2 separate regions of the Homo sapiens genome follow, and region 1 is linked to region 2. Evidence: fine-mapped expression QTL. A gene starts in region 2. The other region holds a variant in brackets. All regions are shown on one strand. Distances are from middle to middle.

Evidence for each region. PIP is the estimated chance that this variant, and not a neighbour inherited with it, causes the effect.
Region 1: its variant is the best candidate, but not a certain one, in a credible set for the expression of SLU7 in testis (GTEx, PIP 0.56).

The regions. Positions count from the first base shown.
Region 1 is chr5:160,381,495-160,385,899 of GRCh38, reverse strand. No RefSeq gene overlaps it. Among named protein-coding and RNA genes, the nearest start is that of C1QTNF2, 13 kb to the right of the region's middle. The variant A/G (reference allele first, on the strand shown) is at 2,263.
Region 2 is chr5:160,417,129-160,421,533 of GRCh38, reverse strand. It overlaps SLU7 (spliceosome associated SLU7), which reads left to right and starts at 2,453. Exons shown (of 16, transcript NM_006425.5): 1 at 2,453-2,511. RefSeq lists enhancers at 2,042-2,111, 2,122-2,241, 2,692-2,741.

The sequences.
Region 1 (4,405 bases), 36 kb after region 2:
TGACTATTACAATAAACAGTGTTGACAAACTGGTACAAACTACCCTGAAACTCCTCATACATAAGGTTACAAAACAATATTATTAATCAGGATATATTATGCCTTGACCAGGATTTGGTGTTATGCAAACAGCTGAGGCCAATTTCAGGCCCACTGGAATTCATCCTCATAGCACAACCCCAAAATGATCAGTGACAGTCTCAACTTACAATTCACTAGAACCACTGTTATATCCCCTGGTGGAAGCATTCCTCTCTTGGGAAACAAGACTGCCAAAATAACAGTTCACAGATGCAGCAAAGGGAAGCACAAATTCTGTGAGTGGATTATTAGGTGCAATAGTAAAATGAGCCACTCCCACTTTCACTCCTTGATTTCTGGGCTCATATTTTGACCTTGGAAGTTAGGGTTACATATCTTTGGTTATCAATTCAAAGCACATACTGCATCCTGTGAAATAGAACCTAATCCTCTTAGGTTATTTTCTCTCAGTTGCAAGTAACTGAGTCTTAAGTAAATCATTCTATCATTCTAACAAAGCAGATGCTTCTGGGTGATGAAGTACATGACAAAACCAATAAATTCCATGGGCATCAGTCTATTGCCACACTCTGTTATGGACTGAATGTTTCCCCCCCAAATTCATATGTTGAAGGCCTAACCCCCCATCAATATGACAGTACTTGGAGATGGGACCTTTGGGAGGGTGTTAGGGTTAGGTGAGGTCATGAGGGCAGGACCCTGGTCCCGTGAGATTAGTGCCCTTATAAGAAGAAGAGATACCAAGAGATTTGTGCAAGATGGCAGCTGCCTACAAGGCCAAGAGAAGAGGCCTTAGAATGAAACCTACCTTGCCAGTACCTTGATCTTGGACTTCACACCCTCCACTGTAAGGAATAAATTTCTGTTGTTTAATTCACCTAGTCTGTGGCATTTTATTGTGGCAGCCCAAGCAGACTAATACATACCCCTTTGCTAATCTTTGATAAGAAGTAATGTGATGCATGATACCATGACAGTTAATAAGGCTGGCAGAGATAATAAAGGCAAAGTCATATCCAGAATATGTATCTTTTCTAGTGACAGTAAATAGAAAGTGCCCACTGTAATCAACCTGCCACCAAGTACCTATGTTAGGCGCTCAGTGTTGGTCCCTGCTGTTGGCAGGTCAGGCACTCAGCATATCAAACTTGGTGAGAGGAAGTCCATGTTGTTGAGCCTAAATGTAAGTCTCCATCCTTGCCAGCATGGCCTCTCTTGTACATGGACCTATTGGGCAGTCATTGGGAATTTTGGGGAAAGAGGCCATCTGATATCCGCAGAGTATGTCATCTTTTTTTCTTTTTTTAAACTGATATTTGAGAGTTATACATATTTGGGGTGTACATGTGACAGTTTTACACATGTGTACAATATGTCGTGATCAAATCGGGGTATTGTAATATCTGTCACCTCAAACATTTTTCTTTGTGTTGGGAGCATTACAATTTTTCTAGCTATTTTGAAGTATACAATAAATTACTGTTAACTATAGGTTCCCTACTGTATTATTGAATGCTATAACATATTCCTTTTTTTTTTTTTTTTTGAGACATAGTTTTGCTCTTGTTGTCTAGGCTAGGGTGCAATGGTGAGATCTCAGCTCACTGCAACCTCCACCTCCCGGGTCCAAGCAATTCTCCTGCCTCAGCCTCCCGAGTAGCTGGGATTACAGGTACCTGCCACCACGCCTGGGTAATTTTTGTATTTTTAGTAGAGATGGGGTTTCACCATGTTGGCCAGGCTGGTCTCGAACTCCTGACCTCAAGTGATCCATCTACCTCGGCCTCCCAAAGTGCTGGGATTACAGGTGTGAGCCACCATGCCCAGCCCCATATTCCTTCTTTATAACTGTAATTTTTTTTACTTAATTACCAACTTCTCTGCATTCTCCCCTGCCCACCACCACCACCACCACCCTACTCTTTGCAGCCTCTGCTAACTACCATTTTACTCTCTATCTCCATGAGATCCATGTTTTTAGCTCCCACATATGACTGAGAACATGTGATATTTGTCTTTCTAGGCCTGACTTATTTCACTGAACATAATGACCTCCAGTCTCATTCATGTTGCTGCAAATGACAGGATTTCATTCTTTTTTAAAGGCCAAATAATATTCCATTGTGTATATATACCACGTCTTTATCCATTCATCCATTGAAGGAGACTTAGGTTGGTTCCATATGTTTACTGTTGTGAATAGTGCTGCAGTAAACACAG[A/G]AGTGCAGATACACTGATTTCCTTTCTTGTGGATACATACTTAGCAGTGGGATTACTGGATCATATAGTGGTTCTATTTTTAGTTTTTTTGAGGAACCTCCACATTGTTCTCCATATTCACTGTACCACTTTACATCCCTACCAACAACATATGAGCATTCTCCTTCTCTGCATCCTCACTAGCATTTATTATTTTTTGTCTTTTTGGCAATAGACATTTTAACTGGGGTAGATGATATCTCATTGTGGTTTTGATTTGCATCTCCCTGATGATTAGTGATGTTGAACATTTTGTCATACACCTGTTGGCTATTTTTATGTCTTCTTTTGAGAATTATCTATTCAGGACTTTTGCCCATTTTTAATTTGGATTATTTAGTTTTTGCTATTGAGTTGCTTGAGTTCTTTATATATTGTTCTTTTATTATTATATTAATCTCTTGTCAAATGGATAGTTTGCAAGTATTTTCTCCCATTCTGTAGGTTGTCTTTTCATTCTGTTGATTGTTTCCTTTACTGTGCAGATGCTTATTCATTTAAGGTAATCCCTTTGTCTATTTTTCTTTTGTTGCCTGTGCTTTTGAGGTCTTATTCAAAAATTTTTTCCCAGACCAGTATCCTGTAGGGTTTTCTCTATGTTTTTGTCTAGTAATTTAATAGTTCTTGGACTTAGGTTTAAGTCTTTAATCCATTTTTAGTTGATTTTTGTATGTTGTAAAAGAGATCTCGTTTCATTCTTCTGTATGTGGATATCCAGTTTTCCCAGCACCACTAATTAAAGAGACCACCCTTTCCTAAGTTTATTTTCTTGGTGCCTTTGTCAAAAATGAGTTGGCTATAAATGTGTAGATTTATTTCTGGGTTCTTTTATCTTTTCCATTGGTCTATGTGAAAGAGTGTCATCTTGTCTTACTGTTTATTGAGAGCCTCCTCTGCAGTGGATGGATGTCTGTGTTAGTTTAGGTTCAGCAAGGCAGTCCAGAAGACCTCAAGCCAAAGTCAGCTGTCACAAGAGACCCATATATTCCAGCAATAGGCGTGGCTAAGTATTCCTGCCACGCTCAGACATTTGCTGGGGAGAGCTCCCAGGAAGTGTGAACTGGCACAAGTACAGTGATGAAATTCAGAGTGCATTAATTTCAGCCTCTGGGGACCCTGGTTAATTATGTTGCCTGTAGTTGACAGCTGCAAAGTGCATTCTCATGGGCACACAACATCGTTTGGTAAGTATCCATCTGGAGCACAATTATCTTTAATTCTCTGCCTATTCTAAGAGGTCCATTCATATACCTGTCCCCCACACCTTTTTGTCACTTATCTTCTCAATCTGTTTTTTCCAAGTCCCTGATCGTCCATCAAACCATTAGTAACTTCCCTTGACTACTGCAGTTTAGATCCATACTTTTGGATATTGTTCAATTCAGACATAGTAGAGAACCAAATGTACTGCTCAAAATTTTCTCTAGGAAATTTTCCCTTCATTAGGATCTTTCCAAGACATACCTGATCCGGGTTGTAATGCTGCAATAGATTTTGCAGCAACCAGCTTGTACCAGCATATTGGTCAGAATAAATTATAAACCAGTTCTAAATTTCTTCCTGCTAGTCAGCTGGTCATAAAGAACTCCCCATGTAGCCTAAATTATGGATTGAGAAAAAAGAAGGCTTGCAACACAAGTAGGTGTCAATGGTGTTAAGCCACTTACTCAGGCAACTTGCTTGTGCCTTCCAAATCTGCTTAATCTTTGTTTCTTCTGTACTTCTTTCCACTTGAGGATAGATTGCTGCTATGCTCACTCCAATTTATGGCTTGCTGGATCAAATAGCACCCTATCCCATGGTTAGATGCCTAGTATCAAATCAGTGACTATTTCTCAGGAGAAAAATAGTTATCTACAGAAGAGGGTGTGGATTTTCTCTACCACCCCAGAGGTCAATGCTTCAGTTCTCCTATTGGCATTTGCCAAAGCCTCCATTAAGAATTCCTATTTGCCACATTCAGGTGTCATTGGATCTGCTGCCTCTTAAGCTCCAAGTGGCAGAGTAGCTAGCACTACAGCATGGACTTGCTGCAGAGCCTTTTCGGGCTCTGGTCTCCACTCCAAACTGGCAGTCTTATGGATTACTTGGTAAATGGGTCAGA
Region 2 (4,405 bases):
GTAAAAAGGATGGAAAATAAATAGAAATATTGAAGAAATAGGGGAAACAACCAATGTTGGGTCTAAAGAATACTAGCAGAGAAGAATTTAAAATTAAGAAGAAATGTAAGTACAGGTAGATCAAACAGCAGCGTTTGAGTCATTCTCTTATGCTTATGATTAAGAACGAACTGATCGTTCCCTAATCTTAGGACTATCCTCAATACTTCAGGCTAAGACACTGTTTCTATTATACCATCACGAATCTGTCTTAGGAACAAAATTATGATTCTAATGAATACATAATTTAGTCTTCCCTTAAAATTCTATCCTTTGATAGTGATTTATTTTAAACCTCTAACATCTCAATAATATATTAACCAAAGTTGCCTGGAAGGGCTTGGCCAGGGAGCAAGAGAATATCAGAGAGATAATAAAGATATAAAAAAGGAATTCCAATTTCCCAGATATGAAAAGAAATTTTGCTTGAAAAAGTTGACGACCTTTTCCTGTTTCTATAGTAAAATGGAATACATTGAACAACTACAAGATGAAGATATAAATTAAAACATAAGGCTGACCTGTGTCATTCAAACTCCGCTTCCCACAGTTCACCATATATGCATTTTAAGCTGCAGATCAGCTGAGAGAGAGGAGTTGATTCCATATTACTCTTTCACGAAAGGCTTGACACTATACCTGACATAGACATGGTTCTCAATATATGCCAGTTCATCATCTCTTTTTCCCTGGCATTTCAGGACCAATATTGATTGAATGATTCATTCATTCACAAATATTTATTGAATACCTATTAAATGCTGGACATTATACTAGGTTATAAGAAAAGAGCCTAACTTAAGGTGAAGAAAAGAGGAAAGACAGAAAAATATGCATACCTTTATTGTCCCTTCACTGTTCTTTTTCCTTTATCCCCATCCTTTATTTCCTCCTGTATCTCCTAAATTTTACATCATCATATTATATTATCAGCACTCAAAGTGTTAATTTTTAAGACTAAATCTGCACAACACCTATAGCTTCCAAGTGGGGATTCTCTATCTACAGAGGTTTTGAGGTGCAAGGTTTGTCTTAGGATGTCTTCTTTTTTTCACCAACAGAAAGCATTGTTTCTCCTAAGGTCATGCAGCAGCTGTAAACCATAACCACCCTCTCTGAATAACCACTGTTTTCTTACTAATGATGCCCTCAGACCAGCTTTGCTATTCCTATTACTGGAAATACTCAATTGCTAAACCACCCTCACTCATAACAGCACTTAGTCCCTAATCAGTTTCTCCCAATCCTTCTTTACAAACAGCAACCCATCCAGAACCAATCCCGGCTTTCCTAGACCTTCCTCAGAACCCTCCAGAGGGACCTCAAGTCTTAGAAAAGATTCAACTGTCTTGTCCTGCGCTTTCTGATTCCTCTTCGAGATGCGCTCTCCTGGTGGTTTTGGCTAATTAGGCCTTAACACTCCTAAGCAAATTTCAGGAATATTTTTAAGTGGAAAAAAACAAAGCCTGAGTGATTCATAGACTCTATTCACTTTCACGCTAGTCTCTGACACTGTTTCTTCATCTACTGCCCTGTAAAAGCAAAATTAATATTTATGTTCCTAAACTCCAGGTATTGCAAATTCTTAATACGAAAAAAATAGATTCTATTATGTTGGGCTATTTTATTGAGGCAGGAATGGTAGCTACTTTTACTTTTACATTCAAAAAGGATACACGTTATGGGGGGGAGGGGGAGAACAACCAGAATAGAAAGCACAAAGAAAAAAAAAAATCACAAGAAATTCTACCACGAAAATTAGTTTATTTTCCAGTGTTTTATTTCACATGTATACTTTTAAAGAAGGGATGGGATAGCATAGATACTGTTTCTCCAAAATGGAAATTGTCGTATTTTTTTCTAATGATAACATGCCTTATGTTCTCACAGCACCTGGTATTCTTTTCATAGCAACTTTTCACAGCTGCTAAATCTGAATAGTTGTTTCGGTGTCTTTCGCACTCTGATGTAAATCTGAGGGAAGACACTGTTCACCAAATCCCCAGCATGTTACACAGCCTGGCTACTAATTAGTGCCAAGTTTAACTGCTTTTTTTTTTTTTTTAAGCTGATACGTCACCAACTTCCCCATTCATTTCATAGTCCCCTGGTGAGGCTTAAGCTCTTGTCTGTTCTGGTCTTTTTTTTTTTTTTTTAACTTCCTAAAATTCTCCGATTCTAAAAGAAAGCTCCTAAATAGAAGCCAAAAAGTAGCCGCCCAACTTGAAACTCCCCACAAGCCGGGTAAATAGCGCGATACGCAGCAGCTAGAGTTCTCGCGTTTCCCACGGCGCAGGAGCACTGGAGGGCCCCCCTCCGCCCCCGGCCCCGCCAGGAAATTAGTGCGCATGTGCCGGTCATCCGGAAGTTACCGCAGTGGCCGCCGGAATTAGGCGAAAAGCCGGAAGTAAACATTACGAGATTGGCTTGGATTCTGTCGGATGGACTTGGGGCTAGCTGCGGCGGGGCTGGGTAAGAAAATATTGTTAGAACTTGCGGGCGACGGGGAGTTGGGGAACCTGAGAAAATGAGTCGAAGGCTCCTAATTATTGGATATATCTTCACGGGGGTGATGAGCCCTCAGGTGTTGAGGGAGCGAGGACGGGGGACCGAAAAGCCACTGTCCTGAGACCCATTCATGGCACTCGTGCCCTGCCAGGCCAGGCCTGCGTCTTCAGGGAAACAGTCGGGATAACTATGAGAGTGTCGCCTTTGTGGCGGTGCCTCGAAGACCTTGAGCAATCCCCGGACTGCGAGCAGGGAAAGCTGCTTCCAGTACCCAAATTGACAGACTGTATTTCCTCGCCAGAAAAATTTACTTGAGCTTCAGTTTTTCCTGTTAAGTCGAGATGATCCGACTTCAGTGGGGTATCATGCGGGTATAAATGAAAACATCTATGTAAGTAAAGCGCTAAACAGTGTCTTACGTAAGCCCTCAGTAAGTGGGAGCTATTACTGTTTTTAGTTGGAGAAAATAGGTCCCTCCACAGCGACGGAAACTAGTGCGTACAACTTGGTGACTATAATACTTTATTCAGTTTTAGTTTTTAATATTTTAGGCCCAGAAGCCAATGTTCTGTGGACAAGTATAACATACTGGTTTAGAGAACTGACTTTGGAGTCAGAGTTGTGTTTGAAGTCCTTATTTCTTACTACAATGTGTTCTTGGCTGAGGATCTTACCTCTCAGAACCTGTTTCTTCACTGTAAAATGGTGTTCATCAGACCTATCTACTGGGCTTATTGTGAAGATTAGATGAGGTGATACACGGTAGGCTCGAGAAATGGTAGCTGTTTTAATAAAGATTAAATTTACCGTTGTTGTGCTTCTCTTCGCAGTATATTTAGGCCATCAGTTTATATGTTACACAAATATATGTGGAGGTTTTCTATAGGTCAGACATAGAAGAGAACACCTTTGAGAAGCATCGTAGACCCCCAGGCATTGAGCACTTTCCACTGGGAAAGAGCTTGTGTAAAGGCCCAGTGTCTACAGGGAGCACGGTTTGTTAGAGGAACTAGAGGAACTACAAGAAGGTCTATGTAGTTAGTAGAGAAGGAAGCGGGGATAGTTGTAATGGTGAGGCTGGAAGGTAGGCAGGTGCCAGACCATGGTGGACCGTGTAGGTGTGTTAAAAAGATGTCAGTTTTTAGAGTACGAATGATAAAATCCTTTGGAGCGTCATTTTTTTTTTTTTTTTTTTGAGACGTAGTCTAGCTCTGTCGCCCAGGCTGGAGTGCAGTGACGCAATATCAGCTCACTGCAATATCGGCCTCCTGGGTTCAGGTGATTCTCCTGTCTCAGCCTCCCGAGTAGCTAGGATTACAGGTGCACGCCACCACGCCTGGCTGATTTTTTTGTATATGCTTAGTAGCGACGGGGTTTCGCCAGGTTGGCCAGGCTGGTCTCAAACTCCTTACCTCAGGTGATCCGCCCGCCTCGGCCTCCCAAAGTGCTGGGATTACAGGTGTGAACCATCGCACCCAGGTGTCACTATTCGTTATGATAGTTATTAGCCACTTGTGGTTATTGAGACTGGAAATGTGATTAGTTTAAATAAGTGTAAAACCCATATCAACTTTTAAAGACAGAGTTGTTTTTTTTCTAATTCAAATTTGCAATTATAATATGTTGGATATATTACATTAAATAAAATCTTGTAAAAGTAATTTTACCTGTTTATTTTTACTTTTTTAATGTGACTACTGGAAAACATAAAATTACATGTGGGACTAGCATTGTATTTCTCTTAGATGGTGCTGTATTGAATTTTTGGACGGTACTGCATTGGAGGATTTTAAGCTTGGGCAGTAGGACATTGTATTAATCTGTTTTCACATTGCCAATGAAGACATAGCCCAGACCT